Homo sapiens: one gene and its partners. The protein of the gene in region 4 interacts with the protein of the main gene of each other region in a biochemical or structural test. Each region holds a gene or a part of one and is shown on either strand. Other genes may lie near its edges.

What was found.
Region 1: the proteins of ITGB2 (region 4) and GULP1 form a complex in vitro, tested with the Homo sapiens proteins (one study listed by IntAct).
Region 2: the proteins of ITGB2 (region 4) and RABGAP1 form a complex in vitro, tested with the Homo sapiens proteins (one study listed by IntAct).
Region 3: the proteins of ITGB2 (region 4) and TLN2 interact in far-western blotting, tested with the Homo sapiens proteins (one study listed by IntAct).

What each region holds. Positions count from the first base shown.
Region 1 is NC_000002.12:188,584,990-188,589,514, reverse strand, and holds part of GULP1 (PTB domain-containing engulfment adapter protein 1), read right to left. Parts: intron 1,661-4,525; coding exon 1,566-1,660; coding exon of another isoform or gene 1,440-1,565; exon of another isoform or gene 906-1,439; intron 865-905; coding exon of another isoform or gene 802-864; exon of another isoform or gene 1-801. UniProt on the Homo sapiens protein: May function as an adapter protein. Required for efficient phagocytosis of apoptotic cells. Modulates cellular glycosphingolipid and cholesterol transport. May play a role in the internalization and endosomal trafficking of various LRP1 ligands, such as PSAP.
Region 2 is NC_000009.12:123,069,447-123,073,971, reverse strand, and holds part of RABGAP1 (rab GTPase-activating protein 1), read right to left. Parts: intron 3,623-4,525; coding exon 3,548-3,622; intron 2,561-3,547; coding exon of another isoform or gene 2,495-2,560; exon of another isoform or gene 2,471-2,494; intron 421-2,470; coding exon 295-420; intron 1-294. UniProt on the Homo sapiens protein: May act as a GTPase-activating protein of RAB6A. May play a role in microtubule nucleation by centrosome. May participate in a RAB6A-mediated pathway involved in the metaphase-anaphase transition.
Region 3 is NC_000015.10:62,841,550-62,845,131, forward strand, and holds the end of TLN2 (talin-2), read left to right. Parts: 3' UTR 1-3,082; downstream 3,083-3,582. UniProt on the Homo sapiens protein: As a major component of focal adhesion plaques that links integrin to the actin cytoskeleton, may play an important role in cell adhesion. Recruits PIP5K1C to focal adhesion plaques and strongly activates its kinase activity.
Region 4 is NC_000021.9:44,895,875-44,900,399, forward strand, and holds part of ITGB2 (integrin beta-2 isoform 1 precursor), read right to left. Parts: coding exon 4,446-4,525; intron 3,289-4,445; coding exon 3,193-3,288; intron 1-3,192.

The DNA of each region.
Region 1 (4,525 bases), on a different chromosome or scaffold from region 4:
AGTACTCTGTATGACCTGTGCAACCCTTGAGAATAAATACTACCACATAAATATTTCTTTGTTACTACAAAAGCATTAGTACCAGATAGTACATGTCCAATGGGTAAAACTAATGTAAAAGAAAAGGAATTGATTTCATATGAAATACAGCATTCTTGCTAAATTATCATGCGCCATTTGAAAGTTTCATAGCGTTTGAAATATAGAAAAGAACTAGGAAATCTGTGCCATCAGATAGAATACATGTTGAAATCAATAGAAATTTGATAAGGTGGTTTTAGCTTTAACCAAATAAGATCATCCGTCCTGTATTGGTGTTGCAATTTGGCTTTCATTTAATTTATAATTTATTGAATTCATAATTTTATAAAAACCATAAGGACAAGTTGTTTATAACATTTTTGTCAATATTTAAAAATTGTAAGTTAATACTAAGGATCTAAAACAATTTTTATGTAAAAGGGGATTAAGAATCATTCAACTTGAGAAACACTGTTTTAATAGATTCTTTGAAAACCTCAAGACATATGTTAAGTAATTCAACTTTTAAATTCAGGCATGTTATTACATCTAGAACAATAATGAATTCATGTACTACCTAGAAAATAAGATAGCTACACAGCTGCAGTCAAAAATGAGTAAAAGGGCATTTAAATTAACTTTCTAAGAAGGATTGCAATTATCAGTGATAGATCAGTGTTCACCCATAATTGTTTTTTCTAGGAAGTGAGGCATAGAGAATTAATGTATTAACCCAAGACTAATAAACAAAAATACCTCCTTCTCCTTACTTTAGTGTCTTCATTGTCTCTTCTCAATCAGCTTCATATAATTGGTGTCTGTCTGGATTCTACCATATATAAACTTTTTGATGAAAAATAGGATATAATAACTTCACCAAAATGTAAAGGGCAAATATAAAGAGAAGACTTTATTCTAGGGTTTATAAGACTATTTTTAAATCATGGCCCATAGTGCAAAGCATTTAAAACCAATTTCTGTAAACTTCAGACCAATTTAGAACAAAAAAGTAAAAGGAAGAGAGAGAAATGAAAACCCAACTGAACTACATTCCTAAATAAGTTGTCACTGGTTGTTTGCTTTTTAAATAAAAGCCCAAAAGTTATGAACTACAGCTACAATGCTTCTTTTCAGAGAGAATAATTTCACTCTTACAAAGATTTTCCTTCATCTACCCATTTACAATTTTCAAATTCATAATTGTTAAGACTGAGATCAAATCTTATAAATCTAATGCAGTGACTGTTTAACTCTAGATTTCAGAACAATGAACCATTAGAATCCATGCCATTTTGTATTTAAAAAATGAACCATCTTATTGACATTATAAATTGAACCATTTAAAAAACCAACAACCTTATCCTTAGCATATGTAGGAGTATTTTTAGGACTAACTGTACATTATTATTTTAAAGTAATTATTTTAAGCGAGTTTTTATAGCGAAAATAATTGAAGGAAACCATAGTTTTGGTACATAACATTCTCTTTGTCCCATATCAAAATGAAATAAATCATTTATGGGCCAGTCTATCAAAATAGTCACCTGCATCTCATCTAATTTTGATTGAATATCTGGAGGGAAATCTGCTGCTCCACAGTTAAATGGGTCAAAAGGTTCTGCTCCAAACAGGTCCCGTTCTGCAAGGAAGGAAATAATTTAGTAAATGAAATAACAAGAAGTGAGCTGGAGTTAGTTAGATTTCAAAGGCAGGATTATATAAATGAATATTTACATGATCAAATAAGCCACTAACCCACACTTACACTGTATGTTGGGCTTTCCTGACCTTAGACCAGTTAAACATTAACAAGGAAGAAAAGATCCATTTTATGATATTAAAAAGTTTTATTATAAAGAATTATTATCTAGAGAGGTTTCTGTGTTTTAGTGAAGATTTCTTAATGTCAAATTCACCAAAGAGCTGATAATTGTATGTTACAACACCTATATTTTATTGAAGCAATTTAAATTTGCTAAAATTAATGCACTACTCATTGAGACTACCCTAATTCCATTGATTGATGCCTTGCAACACAATAGTAAAGCAATATGTAGGACTAAGTAGACTTGTAAGTAGCTCTACTCAAAGTTCATGTACTCTTATCTCTCCTTTTATTCAGAGAAAATTTTAAAGCACATTGTCTCATGTAGTATGAAATGTCACCTTTCTAGATAGTCACAATGAGATAGTTTCTTTAAAAATGCCTCCTATCCCAGAAATACATTTCTTTTTTAAAAGCAGCAGGAATGCAATGTCAAAAAAGCTTTCTGTACATATGTTCTAAAGTATGCACTACTTTTTTATCACTAAAGAAGTATCAAAGTTAAAATTGATGTTTGTAATTGATAGATTACGGCCTATTATGGGATTTTTAAAATAAAAAATTCTTAAGAAATTTCTTTCCTCTGAATCAATTCAAATGTATCCTTAATTGGAAAAACATTACACTATATATGAAAATTAGTATTTATAACATATTCATACCTTCATTTTGCAGAGAACTTTACATTCTCTAAATTCAATTCTATGTAAGAAATACATAGGTAACTAACCTGCACAATGTGCACATGTACCCTAAAACTTAAAGTATAATAAAAAAATTAAAAAATTAAAAAATTAAAAAAGAAATAATATTTATGCTACTTGATTTCTGCCATATCCTCTAAAATCACTCTGTGATTCTCATTGTGAAGGAGTCTTACTTTTCCAGTTTTCATGTTTTTTCCCAGATTCTTGTATTAAATAAGTTAATAAATGTGAAATTCTTACAAGCTCCTTGTACTTGCAGGTATTGTATAAATAAGGAGAACATATAATTTATCATCCAAATACAGATGCTTTTAAAACTAAAAGGAGCATTTCCAATAGTTACACTGGGTAAAAATCTATAAGCCAGGGCTATCCTAATCAAATGGGAATTTATTGTTACCTTATATATAACTGATGAATATTACTATTGCTGTTATTTATTTTCCTCAGTTTAGTGTTGCTCAGGCAATCAATCAAAATTTAGATTTCAGAGGATCTTTTCTCTGGAGAAATGTCCTGGTTTCCACTACACCATAAGCATACTGAATAATGTTTTTCACCTAGTAGGTGTTTGTTAAAAAATGAATTAATGAAAGGGAAGATTTGGTGAAAAGGTTCTGCTTCAAACATGTCCCGTTGTAAAAGGAAGTAAAAATTTAGTAAACGAAATGACAAGAAGTGACTTGGAGTGACTCACTTATATAGATTATGTCTATATAATCTCTATTTCTCTGTCTATATTTATCAAACTTTGATACTCAGGAATATTTAGACACTGAAAAATCTATCAAGGTGTTACTGGAGCACTCTTGTTACACTTCAGCAAAGAGACTAGCAGTGTTTTACCCCTGCCCTAGAGATCTGTGGAACTTTGAACTTGAGAGAGATGATTTAGGGTATCTGGCAGAAGAAATTTCTAAGCAGCAAAGCATTCAAGATGTGACCTGGCTTTTTCTAAAAGCATACAGTCATATGCATTCACAAAGAAATAATTTGAAATTAGAACTTACGTTTAAAAAGGAAGCAGAGCAAAAAGTTTGGAAAATATGCAGCCCGACTATGTGGTAGAAAAAGAAAACCCATTTTCTGAGGAGAAATTCAAGCCTCTTGCAGAAATTTGCATAAGTAAAAAGGAGCTGAATGTTAATAGCCAAGACAATGGGGAAGATGTCACCAGCACATGTCAGACATCTGCGGCAGCCCCTCCCATCAAAGGTCCAGAGGCCTAAGAGGAAAAAATGGTTTCGTGGGCCAAGCCCAGGGCCCTGCTGCTCTGTGCAACCTCAGGACTTGATGTCCTGCATCCCAGCCACTCCAGCTCTAGCCATGGCTAAAAGGGGCCAAGATACAGCTCAAGCCATTGCTTCATGGGGTAAAAGCCCTAAGCCTTGGTGGCTTCCCTGTGGTGTTGGGCCTGCAGGTGCACAGAAGACAAGAGTTGAGCTTTGGGAGCCTCTGCCTAGATTTCGGAGGATGTATGGAAACGCCTGAATGTTCAGGCAGAAGTCTGTGGCAGGAGCAGAGCCCTCATGGAGAACCTCTACTAGGGCAATGCAGAGGAGAAATGTAGGGTTAAAGCCCCCACACAGAGTCCCCACTGGGGCACTGCCTAGTGGAGCTGTGAGAAGAGGGCCACTGTCTTTCAGACCCCCGAATGGTAGATCCACCAACAGCTTGCACTGTGTGCCTGTCACTCAATGCCAGCCTGTGAAAACAGCTATGGGGGCTGTACCCTGCAGAGCCACAGAGGTGGAGCTGCCCAAGGCCTTGGGGTCCATCCCTTGCATTAGCATGCCCTGGATGTGACACATGGAGTAAAATGAGATAATTTTGGAGCTTTAAGATTTAATGACTGCCCCACCGGGTTTCAAACTTGCAAGGGGCCTGTGGCTCCTTCGCTTTGCCAATTTCTCCAATTTGGAATGGAAACGTTCACCCAATGCCTGTATGCTCATTGTATTTTACAAGTAAC
Region 2 (4,525 bases), on a different chromosome or scaffold from region 4:
TCAGCTTCAGAGCCTTGGGGAGTACTTCTTGACTGAGTTAGCTGTGGAAAAGACCCCTAACAAAGTCATCTGATCTTTTGGGAGTTTATCAGCTCACATCCATGAGGTGTGAAAGTTTAACACTTTGTTAATCTTTGCATCATAATCACATAGTGATAAAGGATAAAAATGAAACCCATCCTTAGCCACGGATCGCTAAGGCAATTACCAATGCTCCCTGGCACCATTTCCTCAATTTGGTGCTCCTTAGTCCTGTACTCTTTTTGTCAAACACAAGCTGGTTTCTCTTTTTACCTGCATGAGGCGCTCCAACTGGTAAAATTTGCAATGCAAATCTTCGAAGTTTTGCTTGAAAAGTTCCCTGAGCCCATAGTCAAACATGATCTTGACCAGAACACTGAATGCCTGTTCTTCAGGCATCTGTAACAGATAGGCAAGTTGTTGGGTAGGGAGGATGGCGGTGGGGAATCACAAAACATACAGAAGTTTTCTCAGGATATTAAATCCAGCTTTATATTATTGCCTTACCAGAAAATTTAGTGCTATGCAGAAACTCAGGCCTAAGGTTGTGTTTAAAACATTTATTCACTCAAACAAGGAATAGTTAACAATGACTACTCTTTGTCAGTATGGTTCCTGTCCTCAAGGAGTCTCTCACACAGCCAGTATTAAAATAACTGTAATAGGAATTAGACATCAGTGATAATACAAGAACAGGAAGGCCTGTATCTGCCTAAGGCAGTCAGAAACAGACTTTGTAGAAAGGACAGAATTTGAGCTGAGCAGAAATAGGCTGATATACAGTGTAGGTGTCATCTTTCCCAAATCCTGGGACCTCTGTTTAACCATTTTTCCTCCCTTAGCTGCTATTTCATTCTAGCAAAATTGTTTTTCTTCCTCACTGTTAAAAATATAGCTTGTTTTAGAAGAACCTTACATATTCTAAGGCTTGCAGTAATGCTTGAAGTACTACAAAAGCCTCCTTCACTTCTATTTACATTTATAATAATACCTACATTTTCCATAGTTTTATGGATAATTATTTCCCTGAGAACTTGGCAAGATATTTTCAAAAGAGAAAAAAGAAGCACTGGAAATGTTATTTAAGGATTGGTGTGAATGTAGCAAGCCTTCAAAAAAGTCAAGAAGGTGGGCAGGCTTCTATGGAACAAGATGATGGAGGCGGGCTGAGCACAGAAATCACTGAGAAGAAAGCAGAACTAAAGAGCAAATCAGATTAAGTAATAAGTGAGAAAAGCATAGCAGATCATTACTGGTAAGTTAAGAGTATCTGGGGCAAAAGCCCAGATCTTTGAAGTCTTTGTCATGGAAGGCAACTTCACTTTGCCACATGCAAGGAGATGTGGCCTAACCCACAGTGGTGATTCTGATGCTAAGTAGCCCATCTCCCCTCACTCTAAACAAGCACTTATAACACTCTGGCAAGCAGCAAGAGTTCAAAACAAGACATGGAGGGTCTGATTGGAAAACCCATTTTCAAGGGGATAAATGTCCTTGAACTGAAGGTGAGAACGAAGATAAATCACCCAGGCTTGTGGGACTTTGAGATATAAAGTCTCATTAAAACAACAAAACAAAATAAAAAGTCAACCTCTTTATTCATGTCATAGCTTTATCATATTTTTACATGACTACCAATAGCAACAAGCTGGGTTCAGTTAAGAAAAACCAAAGTGGTTTTTGTTTTACTTGTACAGGTTGAGCAACCCATATCTGAAAATACAAAATGCTCCAAAATCTGAAACTTTTTAAACACTGACATGATGCTAAAAGGAAATGCTCATTGGAACACTTTGGATTTTTGGATTTGGGATGCTCAACCGGTATAATGCAAATATTCCAAAATCCAAAATCCAAAATCCACAACACTTCCGGTCCCAAGCATTTCAAATAAGGGATACTCAAACTTGTATTGCAATCTACACAAAATGGCTTAATACCCTTGAATACCTGTTGCTTAGAAAAGCAAGATTCAGACTCCTTATCTGGGCTTCAAAGCTCTCCCTAGCTCTCTCCTCAACTCCCAGTCACTCAGGATACTCCAGTCACACTGTCCTCCTTTCAGTTCCTCCCATACACCAAGTGTTTCCCCAGTTTAGGACTTCTGTATACTGTACCATTCACTTTCCCATTAACACTCTATTCTCTACTCCCTTTTCAAATAGATCTATTATTTTCATAACAACATTTTGAAAAGTTAACACAGAAAAGAGCAAAAGAAAATGATATCCCTTATCATTTTCCAGGCTGCTCCTTACAGGTCACTTCCCCTGAGAAGCCTTTAATCTAAGTAAGACTCCCTTGTTACAATCTTACACCAAACTTTTTATTATACCTTAATAGCACCACTGAAAGTAATAAATGATATACTTGTGTGATTATGTGCTTAAAGCTAGTTGGATTCACAAGCTCTGTATCCAGGAGGATTGAGACCATGTCTCTTATTTACCTCTGATCTTCAGCACAGTACAGATCATAACAGGTACTCAAAACTCTTTGCTGACATCACCTGTGTGGTATTCTTGCCAAGCATTTTAAACTGAATCATGAGAAAATGAGACAAATCAAGACTGTGGGACATTTTATATGACAATTTGTCTGAATTTTTCAAAACTATCAATGGCATGAAACACAAAAAAAGGCAAAGGAGTAATTTAGATTAAAAGAATAAAGAGAAATGACAATTCAATATTTGAATCTTCATTAGATCTTGATTAGAAAAAAAGCTAGATTCTATGGAGTAGACAATTGGGAGAAAATTGAATGTGTATTGTGTATCAGACATTACTGAATCAATGTGGAATTTCTTGGATGTGATCATGGTATTATGATTATGATACAGAATTCTGTGCTCCCAGAAGGCATATATATGATCAAGTATTTAGAAGTCTTGATGTTTGTTATTTACTTTCAAGAATAATTTCAAAAAACAATTTAAGTAAAAAAGAAAATGTGTGTTTATGCAGAAAAGAGAAAAAAAGAGATGCAGAGGGAGACAAACAGAAAAAGCAGTGTGGAAAATATTAATTGGTAAACTAGATAAAGACTGTTCACCTTAACACTGTTTAGAGTTTTCTGTGGATTTGAAAGAAAATAAAAAAGGTGGAGGGCAAAGGTGTTTGCTAAGCCAATGAATGAATAAAATGGTACTAAAAGAAAACCAACTTTTCCGCCTTCCTCCTACCCCAATACCTAAATCTCAAAACAAGTATTAATGACAGCGGCTACTTTAGAGAAGATAAAACGTCCCCAAGAGTTCAACCAACATTAAAGTCTCTCCAATCATCCTATTAATAAAAAGGAAGTCTACCCCTGTACCAGTTTTCAACATTGCCGTTTATTCTCATCATATATCTCCTCCACAATGACATTAAGTTAATTTAAGGAAAAAGTTTCCAGCTATAGGTGTTAAAATTCATGCCTTAAGAGTCTGTCCAAACCCAATATAAAACCATGCTCAAGCCTAAGGTTAGTATAAGCTGAGGGAGGCCATGTGTTAAGTCATAACAGAGACCTAATTACTCACATGGAGAAGGAGCACAGCAGCAAGAAATGACTGGCCCTGGCAATAACCAATCTCTTCATCATACACAGAATAAGCCTGGAAAATAAAACACACAGAGGAAATGTAAATGAATGTAGCCACTTGTGGGCCATGGTGGCACTATAGGACCTTGAATACAGAACCCTGGAGGATGCTACCCACACTGGGACAGCATTTTGACAGACAGTAAGTGGTGCCAATACTTCTCTCCAATCTTAACTTTTTCTTTACAATGAATACAGCTATCACCACTGCATTTCCTGTGGCGAAGGAGTAGGGAAGATTAAGGAAAAACCACTTCTGCGCTAAAAAAAACTTCGTATTTCCTTGTTGTTGTTCATGATGTTCCCTCTCCTTGGGATGTCCTTTCCCTCTCTGCCTCAAACATGCACTCTTCCTTCAGGCACCAAACTTATTTCAATTCCCCCAGAATGAATTCCTCTCTTCTCTGCCTCTATGGCACCTGCTATACATGCATGGTTATTATTATATTATTACCACATTGCATTTTATTTTATTTTTAGAGACAGGGTCTTGCTCTGTTGCTCAGGCTGGAGTGCAGTGGTACAATCATGGCTCACTGCAGCGTCAACCTCCTGGGCTCAAGGGATCCTGCTCCATCAGCCTCCTGAGTAGCCTGGACCACAGGCTTGCACCACCATGCCTGCCTAATTTTTAAAAATTTTTTATAGAGATGGGATCTCAACTACGTTGCCCAGGCTGGTCTCTAACCCCTAGGCTCAGACTATCCTCCTACCTTGGACTCCCAAAGTACTGGGATTACAGGTGTGAGCCAGTGTGCCTGGCCCACACTGCATTTTTTTTTTTTTTAATAGAGACAGGGTCTCACTATGTTGCCCAGGCTGGTCTCAAACTCCTAAGCTCAAGTGATCCTACTGCCTCAGCCTCACAAACTGCTAGGATTACAGGCGTGAGCCACCAAGCCCAGCCCCACACTGC
Region 3 (3,582 bases), on a different chromosome or scaffold from region 4:
CTGCTTACAAACCTGTCCCCTGTCCTCCAACCCAAAACGCCTTTTTTTCTGTCTTAATATCCAGAAAATCTAAATGCATCCTAAAATCAATGTGAACCTTTAACAAGATAGTTTTACTTATTATCACATAAGACATAAGATGTTTTCATTTTCTGGATGTCACACTTCCAGAATTTCATATTTTTCCCCTCTTTTCTTTCCCCTTTTCAGAGCCCTCCCATAGGAAGGGAAGGGCTTGAATTTACCCTTAATCTGCACCTTTAGCCAAGGCAGTGCATGGAAGATGAATGGCTCGTGGGACAGAATCTAATGCCAGGGAGCAGGAGTGTTTGAAAGAATTCATAGTGGGGAAGGTAAAAGTTAATGGAAGTACATGATTTTCAAAACTGGTAACAGTTAAAGGCACTCACCCTCCGCCTCTCTCTCTCTCTCTCTCTCTGGTGTGCTATCATGTCTTGGACTCCATCCACACTATAGTTTCAAAGTTCCACTGACGGGGGAAAGTTGGTGCTTTGGTCCTCCGAAGATGTCACCTTTCGACCTTGCCCGATCTTGTTTCACCAGACTCTAGCCCATGTCATGGTTTTAAAATACATAAACTTCTGACAGCTTCCCATATTTATAAGTTACTTATAAGTGCTGCACGTATTAGAATTTTTTTTTTTCAGACCAGTAAAGTTAGAGAAAAGACGCTGTAAAGGAAAAGCAAGTGAGAGTATGTGTAGGACACTGACAGTGTGTGGGCACCAGTTCTGAAGAGGAGGGGAGCTGCTGGAGCCCTAGCCTGTTGGGGAAAAGCTGGCACACTCTTGGCTCGCCCTCTTTGAGTGGAGCTGATCCAACACCTCATGCCTGCCTTGGCCGGACACTGAGAGGAGGGGCACACGTGCTTCCAGAGACACTCAGGAGTCAGACCCCAATGCTCAGAGTCACAATGTGTTCATGGCCTCCTGTAACAGGACTCTGGGGATCCCCTCTGTGGCCCAGCCCACCCCACCCTCTGCTCTTCTATGCTGTGCCCAGGGCAGCTGCCCTCTTCTGCCTGTGCCCCATCCCATCCTGAAAACCCAGGACCAAGGCAGGGGCAGGCAGCCAGTTCTTCCACCTTGCCTCAGAGTCATTTAAAACCTTTACTGCATTTGATACCAGAAAAGCCTCCAGAGACAAACCAAATGCAAAGGCCTTTCCTTTATAACTCTAAAGAACAGGCATCGAAAGTTTATTTTTGTAGGAGCTATATAAATACTCACCTTTCTGGAGTCGTCCAGTGCTGGGAGCTTTGGGGAGTTTGGTTCTCAGTTATCACCTGGTATGGTCCCAGTTTCTCATCTGTCCTTTCCTCATCCACCCTGCACATGTGTATGTGAACGGCTTCGTGGCCGGTGTGGTGGTTTCTCATTTCATAAGATAGTTGAAGGGCCATGCCTTGTCTGGATGTTATTTAATAGGCACTACTGCGGTGTCCTCAGATGGTACTGAGGGGGCCTTCTGGTCCTTCAAAGGAAAATAACACAGGCATGAGTTCATTTGGGAGTGTGAACTTTCAGAACACCTAATAAGAGAGTGGTGTCAGAGTAAAAACGGCCCCAGGTCTGGAGCATAGAAGTGTATCTCTGTGAAGAGAGAGCCGGTGTGTTGACATGTGGTTCTTCTCACACCCCTCTACTCCTCGAGGGCTTTGAATCCTTGGGCTGATTTTTGTGCCAGAAATTGCTGTTCCCGATGGCCAAAAGGGGAACCTGAACTGGATTTCAGAACTGCCCAGTGATTTGAAAATTTAGATTTTACTTGGGCCTTTCAGGAGTCTTTAGATAGGGATGCTGAGGTCATATTTAGTTCAATGAACAGCCCTTGTTTAAGTTTTGCCAGTGTCCAGCCAGCTGTGGCCCTGGCCATCTGTGCAGGCAGGTTCCTCAATTCCTGGTTGGCCCTGCAGTCGGTCAACACAGTCCCTCCAGGTCGGCTGCAGAGGCAGCTGCCCAGCCTGCAGTCTATGCACGGGCCTTAAGAAATGAGCTGCCTGTAGCCTCACGGCATATGCTTTTATCAGGGAAAACCCTTCGAGCTTCTTCTGATTCTCACCTGCTTGCTTTCTGGCTGTCTTAGTCAGTGTGTTTACAGGCAACTAAAGCCTGTTCCTAATTTATCAAAAAATTATAACCAAAATTCACCATAGCCTAAGAGAGTAAACCCCACCTCCAAAGTGATGCCAAGGCCAAAACCTCATCAAGGAACCAGACACAGGTCAAAAGTGGTGAGCAAGCCATGGTCTCTGCTCCTGGGGAACTCACACGCTGACCCCCGAGGAGCCTTGGTTTCCTCCCTGGCAGATAGTCCCCAGAATCTTCTCTCCCAGCTTTGAGGTTCTGGGCTCTGGAAAGGCCTCTGGGATGCTGGCCTTAAGATCTCAGCACAGACTATCAGCATGTTCCATTCTCAGATTCCTGGAGGAAAGGTACCCTCTGTTGACCAAGGGGCTGGCTGCTTCTGAGACTTACCAACCCAAGAAATTTGGAGACATTCCCCTCAGGCTAAAAGGCAGCGGTCCCCAGAGTTCAGAAAGCAAAAGATCTTGACAACTGTGCCAGTAGTGGCTCTGGTCCTATCTCTCCACAGTGCTGGCCTCTGCTGGGGAAGGCATCTTTCCCAAAGGTATCCCCAAGTACCATGTTGAAAATGTCCTCAGTCTGTTGCTCCATCTTTCTGAGCCTCTGCTTGGTATGTCATGTTTATGGTCACTACGGATGAGTGTGTGCAGAGTTTGGGTTGATTCTTTTAAATGCTACAAACAAGAGCTATTTCTTTTCAATAAAAAAGGTTTGGATTCGGCCTCTTCCTCTGAGCCCACCTCCCAGCCCTCCAGGGAGCATCAGTGTACCTGAGTCACTTTGTCTGCATCTCTTCATCCCACAAAACACGAGGCTGGGTCTCATTCAGCGGCCTCTCACCAACCTTCAAGATCCAGAAGAAAACAGGAACGTTCAGCTCTGCCCTGTGTCGTATCTAATCACATACATTAATTTATCTAACCACATAAGTTATTTTTTTTTATTTGCCAGAAATAAACCTTTAAAGGAACAAACCTGTGTGGAGGACTCATGGGAATGGGAGGAAGATGGAAAAGAAGGGGGAAGAGACTGTCTTTATCATGAGAGTAAAATTCCACCTTGAGGACTAGCTCCATAGTTACCAGAGGTATGTCAGGAGAGAGCACGTGTGTGTGAGTGAGTGACAGACGCAGAGCCACAGGGTGCCACAGAATTTCATGTAGCTTTGCTGACAAGAGTTAACTTGGAGAAACTCCAGGAGCAGGCGTCCTGGACAAGTAGCTAGGGGGCTTTTTGGCTTTACATACCGCCTCTGTCAGAAGACCGCACAGCTGAATACAGAAGTGCATATGGGATCATCTCCAATCTTGACCCAGGTCCTGGCACAGGAAGGTTAGGTTCACTTCTGACAGCTGAGGCCACAACTGCAACCCCCGGAGACTGCCAGGCCCTCCTTCCTGTTTGGACTGGGAATTGCTGGGGGCCAGAAGTCCTTGTTTGTGGCGGGGCAGCCAGACTTAGAAAAGTGTGAGGC
Region 4 (4,525 bases):
TAAAAAAATAAATAAAATAAAATAAAATAAATAAAAAATAAAAAAAAAATTACTGTTGCATCATGAGGATAAGAAAAGAAAGCAAAGCCCTGAGCTGCAGCATTGTCCAGGCCTGCCCGTGTGAGTCCTCCTGCCTGCGGTGTGAGTGATCCCGCCTGCGGTGTGAGTGCTCCCGCCTGCGGTGTGAGTGATCCCGCCTGCAGTGTGAGTGATCCTGCCTGCGGTGTGACTGCTCCCGCCTGTGGTGTGAGTACTCCTGCCTGTGGTGTGAGTGATCCTGCCTGGTGGATTTCAAGCTCGCAATATCACTGGGTTGGGAGGACGTGCATGGTGGCCAGTGTTGGCCAGAATTTCCACCACACAGGTAGGGAATTCCTACCACCACACAGATGGTAGGCGGAAGTAGCCCCACGAGGGTGGATCACAGTAAAATCACCAGGAAGCCATCGGCTCTTGGCACTCTACTGAGTTTCCATGGGTGTTAAACAGCCCGGTGACATCGGTTCTGGCCGGCCAGATGCACAGGGGCGCAGCCAGCCTCCCCCATGCTCACACATGCTCAGCTTCTTTCATGGAAGATTGCGGCATCATTTCACCTTCCAGGAACACGGAGCAGATGGTCGGGTCACCTCCCCGCCCAAACCCTCCCATGACTGCCCTGCATGGGCCCAGTCCCTTCCATGGAGCTCCTGGGGCCGGTCACAGCCTGGCCACCACCCTCCTCTGCGCCCTCCGCCCACCGCCCACTTCCATCCGTCCCAGTCTGGGGCCATCCCTGTCTTGGGAGAGCTGGGCCCTCCCACATCCTGTCCTGCTGAGCCTGCTGTGCGCTTGGTGCAGAAACACACTCGGAGGGGGCGTGGCACGTGTGTCCACACTCGCTGCCTGTTGCCTTGACCACCCCCGAAGGTGACCAGGAAAGGCTGAGGAAGGCTTGTGTGCCCCAAGGCTCAGCAGTAGGCATGGGGTGCACTCTACCTGCCTCCAGTGCCTGGCCCTGGTGCCACACCATCGCCTGGAGTCTGGCTGCCATGACAAATGGCAAAGGATTGGGACCTGCTACTGCTGGTGAGGAGGGGACCGTCATGGCCACCTACAGATGGGACACAGGGCTGTGACATCCTGACCAGCAGGTGGTCTCTGTGGATGTCCGGCCCCAGCCCTGCCCTGCGCTGACCCACTGTCCCGGCAGCCTGACCAGCTCTGGGTGCCCACTCGGAGGGTCCCCCAGACACCTGCCCCCATCCCGTGTCTCCCGCAGGGTCCTGCTCCCACTCCAGAGCCCGGGGAACCTATGGCAGGAACCGCTGGTCTCGCTGTCGGCCCCAACACACCACGAGGTTGAGCTTGTAGCTGGGATACGGGCCTGACAATGGATCCCTGTAGTTCAGCAAATGTTCACTTTACAAAAGCAGCGGCCCTCCCGGGCACTTTCCTTCCCCAAACCCCGAGTATGTCTCCTCAGCCTAAGCAGCAGGGCAGGGGCTGTGAGGCTGCCCAGCTGGGCAGAGCCCCAGGCAGGGGGAAGAGGGGGCCCTGGTTTCCTGCGTGCCATTTTGAAGAAGATGGCGGTGATGGCCCTGGAATGGCCAGCAGGTCGGTCACTGTCCGGATGAGGATAATCGGGCCCTTTAGGGCGGCTGCTCTGTGAATTCCCTGAGTGGGTGAGCTCAGTACCCACGACGCACTGCCCGCCGGGCACCACTACCCCTTTCACAGATGAGGAAACTGAGGGCTCGGGGTAAGGAAGGGCCTGGGGCGTCCTGTGGTAAGTAACAGAGCTGGGTGTGAGGTGAGCCACCCAGGGCCCTGTCCACCCTGAAGAACGGGGCACGTGGCTGTGTAAAGTACAATGACAACTATCTCGTTCCTCCAGCTCCACCCTGAAGAACGGGGCACGTGGCTGTGTAAAGTACAATGACAACCACCTCCTTCCTCCAGCTCAGTCCTTCTGTCCCTGTGGCCTCAGGGCCACACACTGTGCAGGCTGCTATGGGCGGAGGCTCCTTTCAGGAGGGCGTGCAGTGTTTCCTTCCTTCTAGCGAATCCCTGTTACACAGTCAGGGCTCCACCCAGCAGGCCTGGCTGGCCACACCCCACACATGCCAAAGAGTGGTAGACCCCGGCTGAGCTCCTGAGAGGTAGCCTCTGAGCCCTTGGTACATCCTACCCGATGGGGGTGTCATTGTTCCTGGGGCCTCAGGTCACACCGGATAGTCCCACAGTGTGATTTGGGGTGGGGCCCTGGACAGTTTTCAGCTTGACCTCTGGAGGGCTAGAGACTGAGGTCAGCCATGGGGTGTCAGCCGCGCCGCTGTGACTGACCCCCAGTAGACACCGAGGCTCAAGAGCCTCCTTGGGGACCATGTTCTGTGCATGAGGCCACACATCATCGCTGGGAGGATGGAGCGCCGCCCACACCCCTGCAGGGAGGGGACACTGGGAGCTGGTGCCTGGTTTCTCTCCTGTGCACCTTTGACCTTTGCTGACTTTTGTCTGTATCCTCCCACCTCGGGCAGCGGCTGGCACCCAGGAGGGTCGGCTCTGCAATAAACTGTAACTGTGAGTTTACTGGTTCCTGAGCTCTGCAAGTCCTTCCGGCAAATCACTGATCCTGAGAAAGGTCTTGGGAACCCCAACAGCACCTGAGCGTCTTGACGCACTGACCTGCTCAGGCTGAACACATGGCACTAGCAGCGGAAATGCAGGATGAACGTGTTTCACTGGGGGCCTCTTTTTCTAGGAGCAGAGGCTGGTTATCAGCTGTGCTTCCTTCGTGAAATTCATCCCACTCCGCACTCCAAGCTTGTGAACGTTTTTGTGTAATTTTATCTTCACGGAGAGTGTTGATGTTCAAATGTATGTGAGCATAAAATAAGTGTGTTTCCATAAAATAAAGAATTGTGTTGTATTCCAGGAAAAAACAGAAATATCACCAATGCCAAGACATGCTGTTAACACAGCTGAGTTTCAGGGACGGGGAGGAATTCCTCCTCCTATCGACACGCAGGCGTCCTGTCCCCGACGGGAAGCCTCGGGCTCCTCACCTAGGGGGATCCAGGACCTGGGCCGGCTGGTTGCTCACGTGCCCAGCATGCAGAGGTGGCGCTCAGACCTGCAGTGGCGCTGGGTCTGGCCTGTGGCTGAAACATGCCCCCACCCAATGGATGCTCGGGACCCAACAGCACTCACCTCGTAGGTCTTCACCATCCTACTGGTCACCGCGAAGATGGGCTGGATGTTGTTTTCAGCCAGCTTGTGCGCCAGCTGGCCCACCGATGGGTAGTCCTGGAGAGAGGAGGTCCTGCTCAGTTGGCCCCGAGTCCAGGACAAGGCTTCCAGGTACCCGCCCCTGTCTGCCCCGCTCAGCGTCAGCCCTGCCCGTGCTTCGAACCCTCTCTGGGGAAGGCTGGAGAGGCAGAGGCTGCCACGCAGGAGTGCAGGGCAGAGAGCTGCCACGCCCTCTGGGCAATGTGTGCATAGACTCGGGCTTTCAGAGTCCAGGCATGAGCAGCATTTGAGGCGTCTCACCGTGGGACTGGGGATGTCCACGGGGGCAGAATCCCAGCCTTCCCCACACGGTGGACCTGCTTTCGCACTGAGGGACACTCAGTTTCGGTAGAGGCCATGAGTGTCAGGTGCGGCTCTCCCTACCCGAGTTCCGGGACCCGAGGGCCGTCCCTCCCGTCTGTGGCTCCCGGCGGAGGACCTGAGTCTTGTATCTCTAAAGTCCTTTGCGGCCCCCAGAGCCTACAACGTCAGGCTGCAAGAGCGTCGCACTACGGCCAGCGAGGACAAGCCCCTTGTGACCAGTGGTTGCCTCTCGGCCCACGGCTGATCCCAGCCAGAAGTCCTGGCCCCTCTGAGCCATTGAGATGCCTCCGCAGAGAGGCTCATCCTAACCCGTGCATCCTGGGCTCCTTCTCGCCTCTGTCCCTCCCTGCATGTTCCTCATGGTCCCCGCAGCCGCTCACCCAGCTCAGGCAATGGGGGCAGGGAGGGGCCACACTGGAGGAGGCGGACTCAGGGGCAGCAGGGAACGTACAGTGGAGGCCGGGAGGGGGAGGAGGCGGATGCTTGGGGATGGGACCCTGGCCAGAGGCGGGGACGGCAGGGTGCAGCCGTAGCCTGGGGGCGGTTACTATACCTCCACAGCAGCTGTCAGCCCAGGTAGGGGGGCAGTGGGGCTGGAGACCAACAGAGCCTGGGTGTCCCACAAGGGCGAGGCCGGGCCTCAGCCTGGCTGCCCCCACCAACCCTACCCTCCCCTGGCCTGAGGCCAGTCCGGGGAGACCCCACGCTGCCACTTGGGGCTTCCAGAAGTTTCCTCAGGAATCTGCTCCTTGGGTCAGAAGGAGGCTCTGTCAGGTGGAGACCCCACCCTTGTCTCCTCCGTCAGTGGTGTCCTGCCAGGCGGTGCCTGGGTGCCTGGGGTGGGGACTTACGAATTCGTTGCTCCTCTTGTACAAGTTGTCCTCCAGGTGACAGCGGCCGTCGTTGGGGGTCAGGATGGCGCCCAGCTTCC